7 linked regions of the Homo sapiens genome follow. The protein of the gene in region 5 purifies or fractionates together with the protein of the main gene of each other region. This does not show direct contact. Each region holds a gene or a part of one and is shown on either strand. Other genes may lie near its edges.

Region 1 (3,500 bases), on a different chromosome or scaffold from region 5:
TATTTTTTAGTAGAGACGGGGTTTCACCATGTTAGCCAGGATGATCTCGATCTCCTGACCTCGTGATCCGCCCGCCTTGGCCTCCCAAACTGCTGGAATTATAGGCGTGAGCCACCACGCCTGGCCTATTTCTTTTTCATGGTTTATAATGAGTCTAAGATCTTGTATGTCTGGATTTCAGGTTTGAGAATTAGAAACGTCCAAATGACAGTTTATGTTAGTATTGTTGTGTTCCTTCATAAAGGTTGAGGATATAATTCAGGAAAGCTGAAATTGTTATGCAGATTATTGATAGGAATTGATGCAGATAGCATCTAGCAAATTTTCAACATCGAGTTGTTTCACCCTTTCACCTTAATAAATGTGATTTTAAAGTGTTACAGGTAAAAATGGTTTTATTCCTATTTATAGATTTTTGATGAAATTGAGTCATGAAACTGTAACCATTGAATTGAAGAACGGAACACAGGTCCATGGAACAATCACAGGTACGGAGGTTGGACTGCTTTTATAACATTTTTTTTCTTCTCTTTTACCTAGCCAGAGTTTATTTTTTTATTGCTTAATGAACATTATTGTAGTACAAATCCTTATTTTTTTTGTCTGAATTATGTAATTTTTTTTTTTTTTTTTTAAACAGTTTTGCTCTGTCACCTGGGCCGGAGTGCAGTGGCACGATCTCAGCTCACTGCAACATCCGCCGCCTGGGGTCAAGCAATTCTCCTGTCTCAGCCTCCCAAGTAGCTGGGACTACAGGTGCCTGCCACCATGCCCGGGTAAATTTTTTTTTTAGACGGATTCTCACTCTGTTACCCAGGCTGGAGTGCAGTGGCACAATCTCAGGTCACTACAACCTCTGCCTCCCGGGTCCGGGTTGAAGCAATTCTCCTGCCTCAGCCTCCCAAGTAGCTGGGGTTATGGGTGCGTGCCACCACACCCAGCTAATTTTTTATATTTTTGGTAGAGACGGGGTTTCATCATGTTGGCCAGGTTGGTCTCGAACTCCTGACCTCATGATCCATCTTAACAAAAGCAGTAACAATTCTTATATACAGAGAGAAGCAGAAACAAAGGTGAGGATAGTTTGGTGGAATGGGGATTATGAGGAAGTTACAAAGACAGTGGGAGAAACATGAAAGAAATACCTGTCACATCAGTAGTGAGCCTAAAGCCCAGTCAGGGTTCTTCCATGGCTTGCTGCATTCACTTCTGTAAGCAAAACATTAGTGTGCTAGGAAAAATCTCTAGGAAGGAAACACTGCTGACATTCCCCCATTTACCAGTTGCACATGTGCTAAATTGTGTCATAGAAAACTTGCACTTTGTAGAAGAACAGTAATCTTTTGTAGTCCAGTATTTACTGTGGCTCAGTAGATTAATTAGTTGCCTTAACTTGTATCATACTAATAACTGCACAATTATTTTCCTCTTTAGGTGTGGATGTCAGCATGAATACACATCTTAAAGCTGTGAAAATGACCCTGAAGAACAGAGAACCTGTACAGCTGGAAACGCTGAGTATTCGAGGAAATAACATTCGGTATTTTATTCTACCAGACAGTTTACCTCTGGATACACTACTTGTGGATGTTGAACCTAAGGTGAAATCTAAGAAAAGGGAAGCTGGTAAGTTTGAAGGATTATAAACATTTTTGTGAATGCTAATCCTAATCCACACTATTCATAATATAGATATTATTTGCAAACAACACAAGTGTCTTTGTTGTTTAATATTTCCTATAGTATGTATAGTAATTCTTGGTGTTGCTATTAAAAACATTGAGCAACCGGACGCAGTGGCTCACGCCTATAATCCCAGCACTTTGGGAGGCCAAGGCGGGTGGATCACGAGGTCAGGAGTTCAAGACCAGCCTGGCCAACATGGTGAAGCCTCATCTCTACTAAAAATATAAAACTTAGCTGGGCATGGTGGCGGGTGCCTGTAATCCCAGCTACTCGGGAGGCTGAGGCAGGAGAATCGCTTGAACCCAGTAGGCGGAGGTTGCAGTGAGCCGAGATCTCACCACTGCACTCCAGCCTGGGTGACAGAGCCACTGTCTCAAAAAAAAAAAAAACCAAACAACAAATATCGATGTGGTCGGGCAGGGTGGCTCACACCTGTAATCCCAGCACTTTGGGAGGCCAAGGTGGGCAGATCACCTGAGGCCAGGAGTTCCAGACCAGCCTGGTCAACATGGCGAAACCCCCTCTCTACTAAAAATGCAAAAAAAATCAGGCGTGGTGGTGCGTGCCTTTAGTCCCAGTTACTCGGGAGGTTGAGGCAGACGAATCACTTGAACCTGGGAGGTGGAGGTTGCTGTGAGCCAAGATCACGCCACTGCACTCCAGCCTGGGCTACAGAGTGAGACTTTGTCTCAAAAAAAAAAAATATATATATATATATATGATTGTAATCCATAGCTTGAAAAACAATGATTTAATCTCTCTCTCGGTCCTTTATCTCATGCTGCTTTCCACTTTAAAAAAACCCCCTGTGGGTACCAAAATCTACAGATTCTTAAGTCCCTTTTCATAAAATGGTAGTAGTGTTTCAGTGCACATCCTTTTGTACCCTTTAAATCATCTCTAGATTACTTGTAATACCTAGTATAATGTAAATGCTCTGTAGATAGTTATACTGTATTGTTTAGGCGTTAATGACAAGAAAAAGTCTGTATGTGTTTAGTACAGATACAACCATCATAGGCCTAAACTACATTTTTGATCCTCAGTTGGTTAAATCCATGGATGTGCAACCCATGGATATTGAAGGCTGGCTGTATTTTCAAATCTGAGGATGTTTTGCTTTAATGTCGTTAGGGTTATTCTACATTTTTTTTTTTACTACCTACCTACCTGTCGGGGAATTGATGATTGAAAGCCCCCCGCCTCATATCATCTTACTCCACGCTTCTGAATCTTAGATTTTTCAGAAGTTATTCTTCCTTTACTAAATGTTACAGTTCCCAGTCTACTTTCTATTTAAAATTTTGTTGAAAAAAATTTTTTTTTTTTTTTTTGAGATGGAGTTTCGCTCTTGTTAGCCAAGCTGGAGTGCAGTGGCAGGATCTCAGCTCACTGCAACCTCTGCCTCCTGGGTTCAAGCGATTCTTCTGTTTCAGCCTCCCAAGTAGCTGGGATTATAGGTGTGTGCCACCACACCCAGCTAATTTTGTATTTTTAGTAGAGGTGGGGTTTCATCCTGTTGGTCAGGCTGGTCTCATACCCCTGACCTCAAGTGATCCACCCGCCTCGGCCTTCCAAAGTGCTGGGATTACAGGCAGGAACCACCGCGCCCAGCCGAAATCTTTTTTTGAGATGGACTCTCACTCTGTCGCCCAGGCTGGAGTGCAGTGGCGCGATCTCGGCTCACTGCAAGCTCCGCTTCCCGGGTTCACACCATTGTCCTGCCTCTGCCTCTCCAGTAGCTGGGACCACAGGCGCCTGCAACCACGCCCGGCTAATTTTTTGTATTTTTAGTAGAGACGGGGTTTCACCGT
Region 2 (2,345 bases), on a different chromosome or scaffold from region 5:
TAACATGCCTTCATGCTGGGCATCACTGGTAGATTTTATTTAAAAGTGCATTCAGTTTCCCTTGATACACTTACCTTGTGTGTGTTGGGTAGAAAATAACTGTAGCATTCATATAGGAAGTTGAGAATAAGGATAACCTGACTTTCACCCATGTGTTACTCTTCACTGCCATCAAGGTAGCCCTTCCATTGATGGACATGGCTTCTGGAAAGAAGCGCTTCCTTTTCATAAAGATGTTTATTTTGTGACAAAGGCCAAGGGACTTCACAATTTGGCTATCATAACAGGCCCCACAGTAAACCACAATACAGCCAGAGCTTTAATCATGCTAGAATGGCTAGCTCACAGCTGAAGTTAGGATTTGCGTTTACAAAACTAAAATTTTGACGTATCAGAAGGCAAGTGTTATGAGTATTAGTAAATGTAATGATATTTTCCACAACTTAGAAGTTACAGTAAATGGCTTCCAGCATGGGACCACTTCTGTACCCATTTTTTAACACTAAACAAAGGCAATATGTTTTTCTTCTTTTAAACGTTGAAACCAGAATATATTTTAACATTACTTAAAATTTGAAATTTTTTATTTTTTCCAACACTAATCAGGAATGATTTCTGTTTTCTTTCCCTTAGGTAAAGAGGAGTATTTTTGCTTCACCTGAGAGTGTGACTGGTAAAGTTGGAGTAGGAACCTGTGGAATTGCTGATAAACCTATGACACAATATCAAGATACCTCTAAATACAATGTCAGGCATTTGATGCCTCAATAATCAGAAAAACTGTTGGATTTCATCTCTGCAGGGCTTTACATTTACCTTTTTATCCTTATATTTTTCTAAAGGTAAATTATTTGTTAGATGAGTAAGCAAGATACCATTGTCGTCATTGGTTGGCTTCAGTAGAATGAAACGTGAAGAAATTGCATTTGATAACTGCTATTCATTTAACTTTTCTCATTATCAGTACCACGGTTCCCTCAAAGTTTGTTGAATAAAGCAACTTTTGTAGATGCTGTTTCATACAGCACTTAGATGAATTATTGATCTTCCTAATATCAGGCGCCTACTTAACCTATGGTGTGTACTTTTTGTAAGTTGTAACTTGAAATTTTCAGATGCTTTGAACTTGACACATACTCTAGCAATTCATTGGAACACCAAGGCAAAAACACCAACCTGCTAAAAGAGATCTTTTCATTTTTCTTATTTTCAGCTTTAAAACTTAGCTGTCGTTCAGTTAAGCTTAAAGATAGGTTAATTTGTAAATGGCAAAGTTTGTTTTGAGGTTTTTCCTCAATAACTTGTTTCCCAGGCCTATTAGGCCATCTCTAAAATTGATCTAGCTGTTTTATTTTTATGTACTCTTAGTTTTATGTAAGAAACCTTAGGATGAGCTCCCTTTTCTAAGGTGTTTTTGTTTTTTGTATGTTTGCTTTTTTCCTGTTTTTTGTTTTTTCCATTTACGGCAGTGGTACCATGTTTTGGATGTGTGATGTTTATATGGGAGAACAAAAAGCTGATGTATAGCCCTGTATACAGTGTAGATACTATTTTTGTAAAAACACAAGGCTAAATTAATGAACAAGAATACTGAATATTTCATCATTAAAAATTTCTTGTATTTCTTGTGCATTAATCTGACGATAATTTCCCTGTATATTATGTTCATTTAGCTGTTTGTAATTTTTGTTAATTAGATCAGGTTGTCTGCATTTGTTGGTGTAAGTGAACATCATCACAGTTATCCTGAGTTGAGTTTAAGCCAAATACATGCATAGAAAAGGGTCTTCCTATTAATGGAAGAAGGTAATTTTTAGGATGTGTATTATTTCAGTTTTGTATGTTTAACTTTTATTAAATAAAGTGTTTTTAAAATCTCCAGGGTGTGTTAACAAAAGGGTAAAGTCTTTAGCTGTCAGCACTTAAAGCAATTAAACCTCCAAGTACTTGCACACGGCATTCATGCAAGAGAATACTGAGTGTGTGAGAGGTTTCAGTAAATGCTTAAGTATTCCTTCCATTAGAAGAAATTGGATCTTAAAGGGCAAACCAGGCCTGTGTTTATAGGATGTCCTCATTTTAATGGGTGTTTGTAGATTTTTGGTGGAAGGGGAAAATAAGTTTTTATTTCATGAATTTTAATTTTTTTTATAAATTGAAACTTAGGACAGTGGTAGGTAGAATTCTTCATCTCTCCCTTCCACACCCACCCCTCTCAACCCAGGAGGGTCACTTTTTCTTCATATAATTCGTGGCCACAGGGTAGGACACAAAGGACAGAAAGGCACAAACTGCAGTAGAAAAAGGGTTTGTTGAAGCCTGTAAACTTCTAAATAAAATATACT
Region 3 (3,500 bases), on a different chromosome or scaffold from region 5:
ATGTTTATATATGCATATATATGGCTTTTCCCCTTTTTGAGTAAATTTGTACATGTCACACAACTGCACTTGGAGCACAGGGAATTTGTACTTTTGTGTATTGTGGGTAAGGAACAATGACATGTTTCGGGGCTTGTGTCATAGCTCCGTCATGTCTCATTATTTCAAGTCTGGGTTTAAAGATCTTGAGGCAAATTTCTCTGCTGATGGACTTGGTCTGAAGTAAACTGGATTAGTAAAATGAACAAGCATAGATTATTTTATTTTATTCCCACCACCAGTCTCCCAGAGGCTGCTTTCAGCCACAACGCATATGAACAACCTGCAGCCATTCTGCTTGTGAAGTTCTTAGCATAGATACTTTTAAAATGACTTATTAAGGTCAATCTCTAGTAACTGGAAGTAGATACCAGCATTGACTACTTAAAATTGACCCAGGTTTAATAGAGTGGCTACCTGCATAATTTTAACATGTTAAACAACTTAATAGTGTTTAGCAAAGCTTATTTTTAATTTGGCTATGTTTCATTTTATGGTAGACCAAGGTACATAGATTTATAGAGTGCTTTCAGTGTTTTGCTGTTGCTGTTTAGGTTAAAATGCAAGAGTAAACAAGCAAGAAGGAATAAAAGTTTTAATTTCAGTTTTTTTAATAAAGCAATATACATTTACTGAACAAAATTGGGAAAGTGCTGGAAAGTATAACTAAGAAAACAAATTCTGCAGTCCTGTAATTCGTATTTGTATTAGTTGAGATATTGACAGGTATAACATTGTACTATGCTCTTTTCACTTTGCATTACAACCGAACATCGTCCTATGGCAAAGAAAGGAATATTAAAGTAATTTATTAGAAGTGGATTATAAAAGTATTGAGCAAAACCCACCACTGTTGACTGTAATGATGTGAGGTGGAGTTGTCTTTATCTCCAGTAGCAGTGTTTGTGCTAACTTCTGAATATACTTTTAGTGCACAAAATACCTCTTCACAAATTGAAGGAGAATTTGAGAAAGATTGAGATGCCATCTTCTTTTACTCAATTTGGACCTATCCTTTCTTCATCCTACCCTCAGTATCTGATTTCTGTTGTCTAAGTAGGAGGGGTTTTACTTGCAGCAGACTGAGTTCTTGTGTTACCTCACCTAATGTTAAAAGTTAAGGAAGGTGGGGCATCAGCAAGGAAGGGAAAGATGTTTGTGGTGGAGAATGGGAAACCCTTGATTGTAGGGTATTTTTTATTATTTCTGATAGTTACATAATCCATTGGACTTTTTATTCATTTGAACGTTGGACATTTACTCTCTTTGTGATTATAACGCTACCGTGAACATTCTGCATAAAATTCAGAATCTGAATTCTAAATTTTTGTTTTTAGGAAGGATCGAGATCGAGACCGGGATCGTGAAGATCGGTCTAAAGATCGAGACCGAGAACGTGATAGAGGAGATAGAGAGCGAGAGAGGGAGAAAGAAAAGGAGAAGGAGTTGCGAGCTTCAACAAATGCTATGCTTATCAGTGCTGGATTACCACCTTTGAAAGCTTCCCATTCAGCTCACTCAACCCACTCAGCACATTCAACGCATTCAACACATTCTGCTCATTCAACGCATGCCGGACATGCAGGTCACACGTCACTTCCACAGTGCATTAATCCGTTCACCAACTTACCCCATACTCCTCGATACTATGATATTCTAAAGAAACGTCTTCAGCTCCCTGTTTGGGAATACAAGGATAGGTTTACAGATATTCTGGTTAGACATCAGTCCTTTGTACTGGTTGGTGAGACTGGGTCTGGTAAAACAACACAGGTGAGTTATTGTATACCATGGTACATATTTCATTTATGTTTAAGTTTACCAAATGTTGCATATTTGATTCTGGTGGTCATTTCCCTTGTCTGTCCTATAGAACATCTTGAAGAATAGCTGATTTGATGTTTAATTGGCACTCTGAATTTCAGAGTGGAAATCCTATAGAGAATACCTCTCCCCTGAATCTAGGGGAAAATAGTGGTGCTCGCTTTTCAAATTTTGTTACCTTATGTATGGCAGAGGTATTTTGACTCCCGGACAGTACAGATTTAGGGACCCACAGTTTGTTTTCTGGTACTTGGGTGGAGAAATCACTGGGGTAGATTTTTGTCGTTTGTATTTAATATGGTATTTTGAACCATGCAAAAAATGAAATGCCAAAGTAATATAAAGTCTATACCGGTGACTTTTGTCCATCTAGTCGTCCTCCCTCCCATAGAACTAAACACTGTTACTAGTGTGTTATTTGTAATATAGCTAGGATATTTTTTAAACATGGATGGGCTATTATTAACTAGACCCCTGTTGATAGACATTTAGACTGTTTCCCATGGTTGTTTTGCATGGGTCAAGTGTTTCTGTAGGAAGCAGAAATTGCTGGGTCAGAAGATCATTTGTAATTGTGATACAGAAAGCTGGATAGCCTTCCAGAGGGAGCGTATCAATTTACCTTTCCATGAGCATGTAGGAGAACACGTGGGAAACTATTAAAACGTGAATTTTTACAAATCCAATAGGTGAAAAATTGCATTCTAATGTACTTTTTAATTTGCATTTTCTTGCTGTGGGTGAGAAGTAACTGTCTTTATACACTTAAGCCTGAACCATCAATTAAAAATTTCTGGTTTCAAAAGTAGCAGTCCCTGATCATTGTAGAAACTTTGAAAAATTCAGGAAAGTATTGAAGTGAATTACCTGTCTTACCATGCAGAGATTGAACATACCGCATACACAATTTATCTTTTTCTAAAGTTACATGTGCATGGAGACATTTTGAAGGTACTGTAGCAACCAAAATAGGAAGCTTTTATTATAGACTGAGCCTTAGTACCATTCTTCTTTTCTTTTCTTTTTTTTTTTTTTAATTTTTGTGTTGTTGTTGAGACAGTCTTTCACCCATGCTGGAGTGCAGTGGTATGAACACAGCGTCAACCTCCTGAGCTGAAGCGATCCTCCTGCCTCAGCCTCCCAAGTAGCTGGGATCACAGGCATATGCCACCAGTGCCTGGCTAATTTTTAAATAAAATTTTTGTAGAGTTGAGGTTTTGAACTCCTGAGCTAAAGCAATCCTCCTGCCTTAGCCTTGCCAATTTTTCTTTTTTAATGAAGGAAAACTTAGAATTGATGTTAGGGTATTCAAAAATCACCTTACGGAAATTTTAAGAATTTTCAAACTACAAGAAAGACTGTAACTCTGAACTTACTATTTAATTGATATTTGGGTAAAGCCAGACACTGTATACTTTACATGTATTAGCTCATTTACGTTTTTCTATAACCCTGCAGGAAGATATTCATCACCACTTTACAGATGAGCAAAATGAGGTTTAAGTTTATGAGAAACTTAGGTTTAGTGGATTGTCCTGGGTTACATGGATTATGGATTTTGGTGGGCTCAATATTTAAAACTTTGTACCTTTTGTCTTTATATCTAAAGTTTTATATTTCATACTGCTATTCTGTGG
Region 4 (3,500 bases), on a different chromosome or scaffold from region 5:
CTCCTCTTCTGGGAGGCAAGCTCTGTCCTCATTGCTAGGCAAGACCTACCATGGTTTGGGAACTACAGAGCTGGGTAGGAACATGGGTCTCAGGCCACAGCCACTACCTTCTTACCAACTCTGAGGCCCATGATAGTTGGGGGAGTCAACTGCCAGCCCACCAATCTGGTGACTGGATGTCACATGCGATGCCCTCATGGATTCTCACCTTGTCCATCTACCCTTCGTCCCCCAGGCTCCCTGATGGACTTACTCGCCGAGGAGACATCAACCTGCTGATGCTAGGGGACCCTGGGACAGCCAAGTCCCAGCTTCTGAAGTTTGTGGAGAAGTGTTCTCCCATTGGGGTGAGTGGCCTGGGATACCTTTGCCACCTTGGCTTGCAGGGAGGAAGGCTGCAGGGCAGGGCCTCTGGGTCCTCAGGACACCTGTGGTGGGCTGGCTCACCCGGAATCTCTTCCTCCTTTCTCTTGGCTGCGGTCAGGATGGCCGAGGAGATGGGAGGAAGAAGGGAGCCAACAGGTGTATGTAGGTTTGGGGCAGGGGGCGAGTACACTGTACTGAGAGTCAGGATGGGGTTTGGGTCTCACCCTGGCCAGAAATTGGCTGTGGGCTTTGAGTAAGTCACCCAATCTCCCTGAGCGTCAGTTTATCCATTTGCTAAATAATGATATTGTTATCATTAATAGCTAAAATCTGGCTGGGCATGGTGGTTCATCCCTGTAATACCAGCGCTTTGGGAGGCCGAGGTGGGCGGATTGCTTGAGCTCAGGAGTTTGAGACCAGCCTGGACAACATGGTGAAACCCTGTCTTTACCAAAAATACAAAATAACTAGCCAGGCGTGATATGCACCTGTGGTCCCAGCTGCTTGGGAGGCTGAGGTGGGAGGATCACTTAAGCCCAGAACGGGGAGGTTGCAGTGAGCCAAGATTGTGCCACTGCACTCCAGCCTGGGTGACAGAGTGAGACCATGTTTCAAATAATAATAATAAATAATAATAATAATAATAATAGCTAAAATGAAGGGCCAGACACTGCTTGAAGTACTTTGCATATATTTACTTAGTCTTCACCTCAACTGTGTGGCAGGTACTATTACCCCTGTGTTAGGGGTGAGAAAACTCAGGTACAGAATGGGTAAGTGTCTTGGCCCAGGTCTCACTGCTGGTAAGCATTAGAGCAGGATGTGATTGAACCCAAGTGTCTGATGAGCTGGGTCCTCTGCTGCGTTGTTGAATGGGTCTGCGGGGATCAGAGCCAGAGAAGGTCTGACATGATCCGAGTGGCGGGGTTGTATAGGGCGAGATGGTGGTCTTTGGATAGATAGGAAGTGTGCCAAATTTGCCACACTGGCACTGTCCAGTAGAAATAGTGAACTGCACATGCGACCCATGTATGTCTTCTCAGATTGTCTAACAGCCACATTAAAAAGTAGCTGGGTGCGGTTGTGTGCATACCTGTAGTCCCAGCTACTTGGGAGGCTGAGGTGGGAGGATCACTTGAGCCCAGGAGTTTGAGACCAGCTTGGGCAACATAGCAAGACCCCGTTTCAATTTAAAAGGAAGAAGGGGAAAGAAAAAAGGAAAAACAGGTGAAGTTACTTCTGTTTAACTCGCTATATCTAAAATCTCATTTCAACATGTTGTTTGATATGTAGATTATTGAGATACTTTACATTCTTAGGAGCTCTGAGTCTTTGAAATCGTGCGTATTTTGCACGATTAAGGACATCTCAGTTAGGACTTTCCCAATTTCAGGGGCTCTATGGCAGTATGTGGCGTGTAGGTCTATATAGAGACGACAAGGGACTCACGATGGGGGCAGGCTTTCCCTGGGAGTCAGGAGTCCTCATCCTAGCCCTGAGGCTAACTCCTCTTCTCTGGGCCTCAGTTTGCTCATCTGTGAGTTGGGCCTCACAAGACTGTGTCACAGGGCTGTGGTGAGGCTTAGGTGAGCCATGGATGTGATGCCCTCAGCGGGGAGAACATCTGGGCACACCGAGGCCCAGGGCAGCATCCCCTTCCAGAGGGAGACGCACTGAGTTGGAGCCTTGAGTCCTATTCTGTACCCTGCAGCCAGCTTTGATGTGTGACCTTGGGCAAATCACAACCTCAGTGGGTCTTTTTGTCTTATGGGGGTCAAAGCATGGAGTTGTTATTGGGCCCTGACACCACCCCACTGCCCCAGGTATACACGTCTGGGAAAGGCAGCAGCGCAGCTGGACTGACAGCCTCGGTGATGAGGGACCCTTCGTCCCGGAATTTCATCATGGAGGGCGGAGCCATGGTCCTGGCCGATGGTGGGGTCGTCTGTATTGACGAGTTTGACAAGGTGAGTCTGATGAGGTGGGTAGTAGCCAAAAGGTGGGTGGCACCAGGGTATGTGACTTCCTGTGCTCAGCCAGCAGAAATCACCTCTGACTTGGGAGACATGTTTTCAATCCCTGGGCCGGTCACTCTAGTAACTGTGGGAAGCTGCTTAACCTCTTCAAGCCTCAGTTCCCATATCTGAAGAGTGGGGAGAAGAAAGGCAAGCCCACACAGTTGTTCCCATGATTAGAGGTGACCTGGTTGCTGCCATTGGCCTTGCGTGGAGCTGGTATTCAGGAGTGAGGGCTGCTGTTAGTTTTCCTGTTTCTACTGCTCCCTGCTCCCTCACTTCAGTAGGTCTGATGATATTTCTCTCTTCCCCACTTAGATGCGAGAAGATGACCGTGTGGCAATCCACGAAGCCATGGAGCAGCAGACCATCTCTATCGCCAAGGTGAGTGGCCCTCCATGGAGAGCCCAGCCTGCAGCAGCCCAGCGTGGCCCAACCGTCCTCAGGCTGCCCTGATTGGGACCAAGTTCTCTTTGCCCAGGCCTAGAATCTGTGTGTGTGTGTGTGTGTGTGTGTGTGTGTGTGTGTGTGTGTGTGTGTGTGTGTGTGTGTAAACGTGTATATAAGAAGGCATCTTTGCCATCTCCTCCCCCTTTTCGTCGTCTGTCGCCTGTTAGGCTGGGATCACCACCACCCTGAACTCCCGCTGCTCCGTCCTGGCTGCTGCCAACTCAGTGTTCGGCCGCTGGGATGAGACGAAGGGGGAGGACAACATTGACTTCATGCCCACCATCTTGTCGCGCTTCGACATGATCTTCATCGTCAAGGATGAGCACAATGAGGAGAGGGATGTGGTACGTCCAGGGGCAGGGCTGGTGGCCATGGGACCTGCCTCCAGGCAGGCTTGTGATTGTGTGGGAAGGAGAATGGAGAACAAGGGCCTTGGCTGGCAAAGTCCTGACTGTCAGGCTGTGAAATTGGGGAGCACGTGAGAGGGCGGTTGTTGTGGACTGCAGAGGATTGAAGCAGGGTCTGGAGTCCTGTGGCCTGCTCTGCCTCTGCCGTGAGTGATAAGCTGTGTGATTTGGGCTAAATCAGTTTCTCCCTGGGCCTCAGTCCCTTATATATGAAACAGAGGAGTTGACATTGGGTTATGAGTAATAGAACCTCAGTTCTGGT
Region 5 (3,500 bases):
ATCTTCCATTTCCAAGGCACATATAGTGTTAACATAATCCCTCACATAATTTCACTAATTATCTTCAAGCTTTAAGCATATTTTAAAGGCCTTAAGAACAAAAAGGAGAATCTCATTTTTCAGCATTTTTATTAGCTTTTTTAACCAAAGAATTTTGTGCTAACTCCAGCTGGGCACGGTGGCTCACACCTGTAATCCCAACACTTTCGGAGACTGAGGCAGGAGGATCTCTTGAGCCCAGGAGTATTTAAATAATAATAAAAACAAACGGCTGGGCATGGTGGTTCACACCTGTAATCCCAGCACTTTGGGAGACCGAGGCAGGTTAATCATTTGAGGCCAGGAGTTCAAGACCAGCTTGGCCAACATGGTGAAACCCCGTTTCTACTAAAAATACAGAAATTAGCAGGGCGTGGTGGTGCACGCCTGTAGTCCCAGCTACTTGGAAGGCTGAGGCACAATTGCTTGAACCCAAGAGGCGGAGGTTGCAGTGAGCCAAGACTACACCACTGCACTCCAGCCTGGGCAAGAGAGCAAGACCCTGTCTCAAAAATATATATATAATATTAATAATAAAAACAAGCAAAAAAGTTAAATCCTTCACACTACATAAATTTTTTCCCCTCATGCTATGTCCTTGATAAAGATGAAGACAGTAATTATAAATTCCTAAACACAAAAATATAACACTACCAAAAGTTAATTTTTTATGGGGAAGGCTTTCTAAATAACCTTTACCAATTTGGGCTATTTGGGAGAGTAAAGGAAAGACCACACTCCACAGCGGGCTATACCAATAGTTCACTACTATTTTGTGGTCTACATTTCCTGGTGAAAAAATTAAAAACATTTTTAAAAATATAAACATGGCCAGGTGCAGAGCCTCACACCTGTAATCCCAGCACTTTGGGAGGTAGGCCAAAGCAGGAGGATCACTTGAGACCAGCCTGGGCAACATGGCAAAACCCTGTCTCTACAAAAACTACAAATTTTTTTTAATTAAATAAATAAGCAACAAACATGACAATTTAACAAACTGGGACTTACCTTTCTCATTGGTGGTGTTCCATTCTTAATTTTTAAAAGCAACTTCATTATTTTTCTCTCTTTTTGCTCTTCTGGACTAAGTGTTGATTCATCAACATCAACCTATAGTAAAAAGAAAAAAATGTTAAGGGAAGTTGAAATGTTATGATTTATAATTCTGGAACACAATTAATAGTTTATTTCTGCTAGTATCACTTACCAATAGTTTATCAAAGTATTGAATATCATCAGGTTTTAAAAATGGAAGATTTCCAGATGGCTGGTCATTAACACTTTTCATAGTTCGATCTTCAGTTTGCATGTGGAAACCAGTCATACCACCCAAAGGTGTTGGAGTAGCTGTCAGCTTTCGAGCTGGAGTTCGAATAGGAACATAACCAGCTGGAGGAGGAAGTACCTAATAAAAGTTATAAGACAGTTTAGGATTTTCTTAACTTAAAAAACAGCATAATGAACAATATTTGCACTTAAAATATTTTAGTTTATTAGCTAATAAGGTTTTTATTTGCTTGGAGACAACATCTATCTTGCTTTTCTATCTTAATTAGAAACTTAAAATATATACTTCTCATCCACTAACTGATTATATCCGTGGTGTAGGGAACTGAGGAAACACAAGAGAAGAGCTTAGAAAATACTAATCACATTCAAACATGTTGTGGGTCAAAATGTCAAATTATTAAAAATTTGAAAATTATAAAATCTGAGTCAGCAATTCCAAAAAATGCTGTAGTCGAGCAAATAATGTTTCATAAGATTTATATAAAATGGAAATAAGCTCATATGGGGCATAAAACATAAAAAATTATATTTTAGTATTAAAATGTCACATAAATTCTTGCACTACAAAATCTTTTAAGTGTAAAACTCTACAAAAATTAGTTAAATGCATAAAAACTAAAACCAAAATGTTTGCCAAAGCCCTATAAAATACACACCACCTGATCAAACCTTTTGCAAAACGAGTAAAATTTCAAAAAATGCAGGCTGAAAATCACAAAGAAATTTTTTTTTTTTTTTTTAAAGCTGGTAACAGACTTCAAAAAAAAAAAACAACTTCTGGACAGGCCAGGATTACAGCACTTTGGGAGGCTGAGATGGGAGGAACGCTTGAGCCCAGGAGTTTGAGACCAGCCTTGGCAACATGGCAAGACCCCATCTCTATTTTATATAATTTAATATATAGTAAAAGAAAAAAAATACAACTTCTTGGAGAGGTCAATAAACCTATACACGTCTTCTCCAGTGAGCCTAAAATTGTTTTGTCTATTAAAGATTAAATTATGTTAAATTTATATTGATGCTATCTGTACTTTGCACAGATATTTTTTGTTGCTAGTTAACGTCTGCACCAGCACAGACCACTAAGCATTTTGGATAAAGTGGATACTCTAAAGATGTGAGGCCTAGAGAAATCAATGTCAAGTCCACAGGCATCACTTGCCATTAAGGATTTAAAGGTCTACTATATTTTTATATTCACTAGTAAGGACGTTGCTTATTAGTAGGATTCACTAAGGGAGACTTTTCCTCCTAGTGACACTAAGGAAATCAATGACTACGACTGAGAAAGACATGCAGGCAGTCAACAGTAAGTTCTGTCTATCTATACCCACAGTTCTATCTATACCCACAGCATTATGTGGAGGCTACAAAAAGCTTTAAGGCAAAACTTCATGCAAACTTGAAACAAATACTCTAACACAAATAACAGGGGATCAAAAACAAAACAAGGCTGGACACAGTGGCTCATGCCTATAATCCCCAGCAGTGTGGGAGGCCAATGTGGGTACTTTGAGCCTAGGAGTTTGAGACCAGCCTGGCAACACAGTGAGACTCCCGTATCTACAAAAAATAAAAAAATTAGCCAGGTATGGTAGTGCATGCCTGTAGCCCCAGCTACTCAGGAGGCTGAGGCAGGAGGATCACTTGAGCCCAGGAGTCCAAGGCTGCAGTGAGCTATGTCAGCGCCACTGCTCTCCAGTACGGGCAACACAGTGAGACCCTGTCTCTAAAACAAAACAAAACAACAAAAAACATACTCATGAACTGTTAAAAATCAATAGTCATTAACAGAAAAAGCTCTGTAAAGGCCATCAGATGACTTACAAAGTTATCTGGTTCCCCCTGGTTATGATGTCAGCTATACGACCACAGACTATCTTCAGACTAACAAATACTCCCTGAGTACCAGGTACCTAGAAAATTTTATAGTTCAAAATAAATTTTAGGTTGATATGATAAAAAGGCCAGGCACGGTAACTCACGCCTGTAATCCCAGCACTTTGGGAGGCTGAGAGGGACGGATCACTTGAGGTCAGGAGTTCAAGATCAGCCTGGCCAGCATGGCGAAACCCTGTCTCTACTAGAAATACAAAGATGAGCCGGGCATGGTGGTGGACACCTGTAATCCCAGGTACCTGGGAAACTCAGGCAAGAGAATCGCTTAAACC
Region 6 (3,500 bases), on a different chromosome or scaffold from region 5:
TTAAGTTCAAGATAGGCAACTCTTTTTTTTTTTTCTTTTTGAGATGGAGTTCCGCTCTTGCTGCCCAGGCTGGAGTGCAATGGCGTGATCTCAGCTCACTCCAACCTCCCAAGATAGGCAACTCTTCATGAGAGTTATTATGGTGAAGTAATCAGTTTGTTCACTAGTTACGTGATTCCTACCATACCTCTTGTTCTTCTTGCCGTTTTTTAGCCGCCTCTTCCTTTTCCTTCTTTATTCTGAATTCTTCTTGTGCCTTCTGCTCTCTTAGCAACCACTCCTCATGTAATCTTTGCCTATCAGTATAATGATGTAATCAGATAAAAGAAATGGGCATTAATCCACAAATACACACACACACGAGAGCAAAATGACACATTTTGGGACTGATTCAAATATCACGAAAGCTATTTTCTATTAAAGCAGTCAAGTGGGTGTAAGAGAACGAGAAGAGCAGAGCTTTTGGAAAAGCACCACGTGTCAGCAACTATCTTCCTAATGGGTAATAACTTAAAATCTCTCTTACATTTCATAGGTATATATGGCTGTGACATACTTTACAGAAAAAAGGACACTATGACTTTCCCTCTAGACTGATCACAGTGATGTTTAGGTGACAATAAAATGGGTAGCAAGTTTCAAAGCAGCATCTACCTTTTCATATTCAGAAAGCATTTCCCTTCCTATTCTATGCATTTATTTTTATTTATTTATTTATTTTGAGACAGAGTATTACTCTGTTGCCCAGGCTGGAGTGCAGTGGCATGATCTTGGCTCACTGCAACCTCTGCCTCCCGGGTTCAAGTGATTCTCCTGCCTCAGCCTCCCGAGTAGCTGGGATTACAGGTGCCCACCACCACGCAAGGCTAATTTTTGTATTTTTAGTACAGACAGCGTTTCATCATGTTGGCCAGGCTGGTCTCGAACTCCTGACCTCAAGTGATCCACCTGCCTCGGCCTCCCAAAGTGCTGGGATTACATGTGTGAGCCACTGCACCCAGCCCCTATTCTTAAAAGTAGCAATTCCATGATGGCAGCACGCTGAAAACCCAGTATCCTTTGCCATAAACCTTTGGACTACTACTACACACAGTTAAGAGACTCCTGTGGTTTGCCTCCAAACACCTAAACAGCCAAAAGAAGGAAAATAAAAGTACATTGTAATCATGTTTTTAAAATAAAGCTACAGGTTTTAAGAAATGGAGTTATAAAAATAAATTAGTGAGGGCCGGGCGCAATGGCTCGCACCTGTAATCCAGCACTTTGGGAGGCTGAGGCGGGCGGATCACCTGAGGTCAGGAATTTGAGACCAGGCTGGCCAACATGGTGAACCCCATCTCTACTAAAAATACAAAAATTAGCCAGGCGTGGTGGCAGCCGCCTATAATCCCAGCTACTTGGGAGGCTGAGGCAGGAGAATCGCTTGAATCTGGGAGGCGGAGTTTGCAATGAGCCGAGATCATGCCACTGCACTCCAGCCTGGGTGACAGAGCGAGACTTCGTCTCAAAAAATGAAAAAATAAAAATAAATTAGTGAGTGTCTAGTCTATTTTTTATATGACCAATTATAATGAGTGGTATTACCTTAAAGTGGCAAGTGTCTCAGACATCCAATATCACAAATTTCTAATATAAAGAGGGGGTTAGATTGCCAAAGTCTACCTGCCAATTAGGTGTGTAGAACCTCAAATTCATTCTTCCACTGAATTTATAAAAGGGAAATTAAATATGAGAAACTGTTCTATATTACTTCAGCAGTATTAGGAGTTCAGTAAAGTTTTATGTCTAGTCTGGGGACCTAACCACAATTTTAAATAAAATATATTACATTTCCAAATACAGATTCCAGGAACACATCTTTTAGCCATGGCAGAGGCTGGCACATTGCATCTATCAGTGTTCCTATGCCATGTGTGAGGGTACCATATAGATGTTTCAGTGGGCACAACTCTGATTTACAAATCTTTTGAAAAACATATAATTGTATATAAATGAACCAAATGATATATAAATTAAGACCACAAGAAAGTAAAATGTTAAAAATTTTAAAATTTAATAACTTGAATATACATCTGCTTTGAAATAGGACATAAAGTCATACAGTATTTTTACATAATTTTCTTGCTTTTCAATAATAGTATGCAACTCATAAAGAAATAAAGATCTAAGGAGCACAAAGATACATGTATGTGATTTAAAAGAAGCATTTCAAATAAACAGGAAAAAAATTACTCTCTTATTTCATACCGTATCTATTGTCTTCATCATAACAGAAATCTATAATAATAAGAACTAGAGCTATCACAGCACCTCTCATCTGCTGACACTGTGTTAAACACTATACATCCATCACCTCCTTTAATCTTCACAATTCTGTGAGGTGGATACTGTGATTGACTTTATCTCCATATTACAGACAAGGAAATAGAAGCTTAGAGACATTAAGAAATTTCGGCTGAGCGCGGTGGCTCACACCTGTAATCTCAGCACTTTGTGAGGCCGAGGCGGGCAGATCATGAGGTCAAGAGATCGAGACCATCCTGGCCAACATGGTGAAACCCCATCTCTACTAAAAGTACAAAAAAAAATTAACTGGGTGTGGCGGTGCGTGCCTGTAATCCCGGCTACTCGGGAGGCTGAGGCAGGAGAATCGTGTGAACCTGGGAGGTGGAGGTTGCGGTGAGCGGAGATCACACCACTGCACTCCAGCCTGGTGACAGAACGAGAGTCCGTCTCAAACAAAACAAAACAAAAACAAATTTTAAAAAAACATGTATCCCAAAAGAGAAAGGTGTGAGACTTGAGCAATCTACAAATAGGTAATAAAACATATAAAAAGATACTCTACCTAATTCAGAAATGTGCATTTGAAACAGTTTCATTATAGTTTTATAAACTGATAATGCCTAGTATGAGTGAAGGTATGGGGAGATGGGCCCCTACATTCACTGCCAGAAGGGCTGCAAACTGCAAACCAGGAAGCCCTTTCTACCTGGCCATCTACATTTTACATGGACTTATGATTTGATTCCAACAATCTCATTTTTAGTCATGTTCTTAAGGAAATAACTGGACAATTACCAAGGATATATAAGCATGGATGCTTACTGCAACTTTTTACATATGAGTGAAAAACCAATATAACCTGAAAGTCCATCAGTAGAGAACTATAAATTATAAATGAATAAACTATGAATAGCAAATAAATTATGCTACATCTGTACAGTGGGTACTGTATTGCCACTGAAATGGCTGAATTAGATCCCTGCATCAGTACTGAAATAAATGCACTATATATTTAGCAAGAAAGCAATTTATAGAAAAATATGTATAAATATCATGCCATTATAGAAAGACACACGTAAAGTACATTTACACTTTCTTTTTCTCTTTCTTAACAGTGGCTATCTTTGGGTGTGTTGCAATTATTAAAGTCTTTTCCCTTTTTACATTTGTTAATTTTTTTTGTTTTTTTTCTGTTTTCAAAAACAATTACAGGT
Region 7 (3,500 bases), on a different chromosome or scaffold from region 5:
GAGGCCGAGGCAGGTGGATTACCTGAGCTCAGGAGTTTGCAGCCAGCCTGGGCAACACCGTGAAACCCTGTCTCTACTAAAATACAAAAATTAGCTCGGTGTGGCAGCATGCACCTGTAGTCCCAGCTACTCCTGTGGCTGAGGAAGGAGAATTGCTTGAACCCGGGAGGCAGAGATTGCAGTGAGCCGAGATCCTGCCACTGCACTCCAGCCTAGGCAACAGAGTGAGACTCTGTCTCAGAAAAAATAAATAAATAAATAAATAAATAAATAAATTATTTTGAGACAGAATCTTCCTCTGTTGCCCAGGCTGGAGTGCAGTGGTGCAATCTTGGCTCACTGCAACCTCCACCTCCCGGGTTCAAGTGATTCTCCTGCCTCAGCCTCCTGAGTAGCTGGGATTACAGGCACGTGCCACCATACCTGGCTGATTTTTTTATTTTTAGTAGAGACGGGGTTTCGCCATGTTGCCCAGGCTGGTCTCAAACTCCTGAGCTCAAGTGATCTGCCTGCCTCAGCCTCCCAAAGTGCTAGGATTACAGGCGTGAGCTACTGTGCCACACTAAGAATCTTTAACATACCTTCCCCTACTGAATAAGCACCATGAAAGAGGGGTTTTTGTCTATTTTGTTCATTGCTTTATTCCCAGAGCCTTGAATGGCGCCTGGCATCTGGCAGGTTCTCCTTAAACAGCTAAGTGAGTGAGATTGAACCTGGAAGACTGAAGTATTCTTGTGTGACAGGAAATCCCCCTGCACTGCACTCCTCTCCTAGCATTGTCTCCTCGGTCCTTTGGCCTGATGTTTATTGCTGTTCCAGCTTCCCTTAAAAATACCAACAGCCTTTCTACTGAACACTTGCTTACTGTGTGTCAGGTACTGTTCCAAGCACTTTAACTCATTTAGTCCTCACAACAGTCCTTTGAAGTGGGAAGTATCATAATCCCCATTTTTCAGACAAGGAAGTTAAGGCCAAGATATTTCTGTGTTTCTCAGTAAGCTCCTGATAAGGTCTGAATTTTTTTTTGTTTGTTTGTTTTTTGTTTTTTGTTTTTTGCTCTGTTGCCTGGGCTGGAGTGCAGTGGTGCCATCTCAGCTGACTGCAACCTTCGCCTCCTGGGTTCAAGCGATTCTTCTGCCTCAGCCTCTTGAGTAGCTGGGACTACAGGTGCGCACCACCATGCCCAGCTAATTTTTGTATTTTTGGTAGAAATGGGGTTTCCTGGCCAGGCGCAGTGGCTCATGCCTGTAATCCCAGCACTTTCGGAGGCCGAGGTGGGTGGATCACCTGAGGTCAGGAGTTCGAGACCAGCCTGGCCAACATGGTGAAACCCTGTCTCTACTAAAAGCACAAAAATTAGCCAGGCGTGGTGGTGGGCGCCTGTAATCCCAGCTAGTAGGGAGGCTGAGGCAGAATTGCTTGAACCCGGGAGGCAGAGGTTGCAGTCAGCTGAGATCTCATCACTGCACTCTAGCCTGGGTGACAGAGCAAGACAATGTCTCAAAAAAAAAAAAAAAAGAAAAGAAACAAAGAAATGGGGTTTTGCCATGTTGGCCAAGCTGGTCTCCACCTCCTGGCCTCAAGTGATCTGCTCGCTTTAGCCTCCCAAAGGGCTGGGATTACAGGCATGAGCCGCAGCACCTGGCCCCTGATAAAGGTCCAATTTTGAATCTTGGCAATTGGGCTCTGAATCCACGCTCTTAACCCGTTCTGCTCTCTGTTTGGTAGCGTATCCAGTATGCCAAGACCGACTCAGATATCATTGCCAAGATGAAAGGCACCTTCGTGGAGCGGGACCGCAAGCGGGAGAAGAGGAAGCCCAAGAGCCAGGAGACCCCGGCCACCAAGAAGGCTGTGCAAGGCGGGGGAGCCACCCCCGTGGTGGGGGCTGTCCAGGGGCCTGTCCCGGTAAGCCAGGTCCCGGAGACCAACCCTCCCACTGCCAGACCTTCCTCAGCCACATGGACTGGCTTTGGGACAGGGTGGGGAGAGTTCTCCCCTTGGGGCTTCAGACCCCTCCTTTCCATTTCTTTATAGAGATGTGTTTCTCTCTCTCTTTTGGGGGGTATTGAGCACCTAGATGATGCTATCTCCTTTCGAAACTCTTGTTCCCTCCTTGTGACTGTTTCTCAAGGTCTTTCTTCATGGCTATGACTTGGTTTCGCTCTCTCCGTGGCCTTGATTTTGTCGCCTGTGTCTTGTAACTCATTGTGCATGTAGAAAATCCAAGTGTCTACTAAGCAACTGTTAGGATTAATAAGTGAACTTAAATTTAGAAAGATCGCTGGATATAAAGGCAATATGGAAAAAAATTAGTTTTATTTATTTATTCATATTATGTTTTGAGACAGGGTCTCACTGTCACCCAGGTTGGAGTGCAGTGGCGCCATCACAGCTCACTACAACCTCCGCCTCCCAGGCTCAAGTGATACGCCTCAGCCTCCCTAGCAGCTGGAACTGTCAGTCCGTGCCACTCCACCCAGCTAACTTTTGCATTTTTTGTAGAGACGGGGCTTAGCCATATCACCCAGGCTAGTCTCAAACTCACTGTCTCAGCCTCCCAAAGTGCTAGGATTACATGCATGAGCCACCATGGCTGGCCCCCAGTTTTATTTTTATATGCCAGTAACAGACCAGTAGACTTCACATTGAAAAGTAGCACTGAGGGGTAAATCCAACAAAAGGTTTGCAGAACGACTACACTGAAATCACAGAATGTAGCTGGGAGAAATCAGAGACTCAGCAATGGATAGGAAGACTCAGTATTGTCAAGAGGTCAGTTCCATCCAAATTAATTGAAGATTCAACGTGATTGCAATCAAAATCCCACCAGGAATTTCGGTAAACACTGGACACTGATTGGCTCTTTCTAAATGTGTGGAAAGACAAGGCCAAGCCAGGCGAGGAGAATAAAGCACCAGGACCTGCATGACCAGGGGAAGCTCCAGCAACCAGGCCAGGCCCAATGGCTCATGCCTGTAATCCCAGCACTTTGGGAGGCCAAGATAGGAGGATTGCTTTAGGTCAGGAGTTCAAGACCAGCCTCTATAAAATAGCAAGACCTCATCTCTACAAAAAATAAAATAGAAAACTGGGCGTGGTGACTCATTCCTGTAGTCCCAGCTGCTCAGGAGGCTGAGCTGGGAGGATCGCTTGAGAACTGGAGGTCAAGGCTGCAGTGAACAGTGGTTTTGTCACTGCACTCCAGCCTGGGTAACAGAGTGAGACCTTGTCTCTTTTTTGTTTTGTTTTGTTTTCTTTTGTTTTTTTTCGGGAGGGAGTCTCAGTCAATCTGTCTCCCCAGGCTGGAATGCAGTCGTGCAATCTCGGCTCACTGCAACCTCTGCCTCTCAAGTTCAAGTGATCTTCTGCCTCAGCCTCCCAAGTAGCTGGATCACAGGCACATGCCACCACGTCCATGTGCAAAAAAAAAAAAAAAACCTGCAGCAACCAACCAGGATGATATACAGTTGGCAGAAGGGTAGGAAGACAGACCAAGG

Evidence for each region.
Region 1: the proteins of SF3B1 (region 5) and SNRPD1 fractionate together in Homo sapiens (co-fractionation; 5 studies listed by BioGRID and IntAct, with this or other methods). This does not show direct contact.
Region 2: the proteins of SF3B1 (region 5) and SMNDC1 purify together in Homo sapiens (co-immunoprecipitation; 5 studies listed by BioGRID and IntAct, with this or other methods). This does not show direct contact.
Region 3: the proteins of SF3B1 (region 5) and DHX15 purify together in Homo sapiens (co-immunoprecipitation; 6 studies listed by BioGRID and IntAct, with this or other methods). This does not show direct contact.
Region 4: the proteins of SF3B1 (region 5) and MCM5 purify together in Homo sapiens (affinity purification with mass spectrometry; 4 studies listed by BioGRID and IntAct, with this or other methods). This does not show direct contact.
Region 6: the proteins of SF3B1 (region 5) and ZRSR2 purify together in Homo sapiens (affinity purification with mass spectrometry; 5 studies listed by BioGRID and IntAct, with this or other methods). This does not show direct contact.
Region 7: the proteins of SF3B1 (region 5) and SNRPA fractionate together in Homo sapiens (co-fractionation; 4 studies listed by BioGRID and IntAct, with this or other methods). This does not show direct contact.

Annotation. Positions count from the first base shown.
Region 1 is NC_000018.10:21,622,314-21,625,813, forward strand, and holds part of SNRPD1 (small nuclear ribonucleoprotein Sm D1), read left to right. Parts: intron 1-411; coding exon 412-488; intron 489-1,434; coding exon 1,435-1,626; intron 1,627-3,500. UniProt on the Homo sapiens protein: Plays a role in pre-mRNA splicing as a core component of the spliceosomal U1, U2, U4 and U5 small nuclear ribonucleoproteins (snRNPs), the building blocks of the spliceosome.
Region 2 is NC_000010.11:110,292,576-110,294,920, reverse strand, and holds part of SMNDC1 (survival of motor neuron-related-splicing factor 30), read left to right. Parts: intron 1-633; coding exon 634-771; 3' UTR 772-2,345. UniProt on the Homo sapiens protein: Involved in spliceosome assembly.
Region 3 is NC_000004.12:24,574,555-24,578,054, reverse strand, and holds part of DHX15 (ATP-dependent RNA helicase DHX15), read left to right. Parts: intron 1-1,376; coding exon 1,377-1,812; intron 1,813-3,500.
Region 4 is NC_000022.11:35,413,640-35,417,139, forward strand, and holds part of MCM5 (DNA replication licensing factor MCM5), read left to right. Parts: intron 1-235; coding exon 236-347; intron 348-2,189; coding exon 2,190-2,333; intron 2,334-2,699; coding exon 2,700-2,765; intron 2,766-2,998; coding exon 2,999-3,175; intron 3,176-3,500. UniProt on the Homo sapiens protein: Acts as a component of the MCM2-7 complex (MCM complex) which is the replicative helicase essential for 'once per cell cycle' DNA replication initiation and elongation in eukaryotic cells.
Region 5 is NC_000002.12:197,404,029-197,407,528, forward strand, and holds part of SF3B1 (splicing factor 3B subunit 1), read right to left. Parts: intron 1,445-3,500; coding exon 1,247-1,444; intron 1,150-1,246; coding exon 1,048-1,149; intron 827-1,047; exon of another isoform or gene 690-826; intron 1-689. UniProt on the Homo sapiens protein: Component of the 17S U2 SnRNP complex of the spliceosome, a large ribonucleoprotein complex that removes introns from transcribed pre-mRNAs.
Region 6 is NC_000023.11:15,800,484-15,803,983, reverse strand, and holds part of ZRSR2 (U2 small nuclear ribonucleoprotein auxiliary factor 35 kDa subunit-related protein 2), read right to left. Parts: intron 297-3,500; coding exon 188-296; intron 1-187. UniProt on the Homo sapiens protein: Pre-mRNA-binding protein required for splicing of both U2- and U12-type introns. Selectively interacts with the 3'-splice site of U2- and U12-type pre-mRNAs and promotes different steps in U2 and U12 intron splicing.
Region 7 is NC_000019.10:40,757,703-40,761,202, forward strand, and holds part of SNRPA (U1 small nuclear ribonucleoprotein A), read left to right. Parts: intron 1-1,728; coding exon 1,729-1,908; intron 1,909-3,500. UniProt on the Homo sapiens protein: Component of the spliceosomal U1 snRNP, which is essential for recognition of the pre-mRNA 5' splice-site and the subsequent assembly of the spliceosome. U1 snRNP is the first snRNP to interact with pre-mRNA.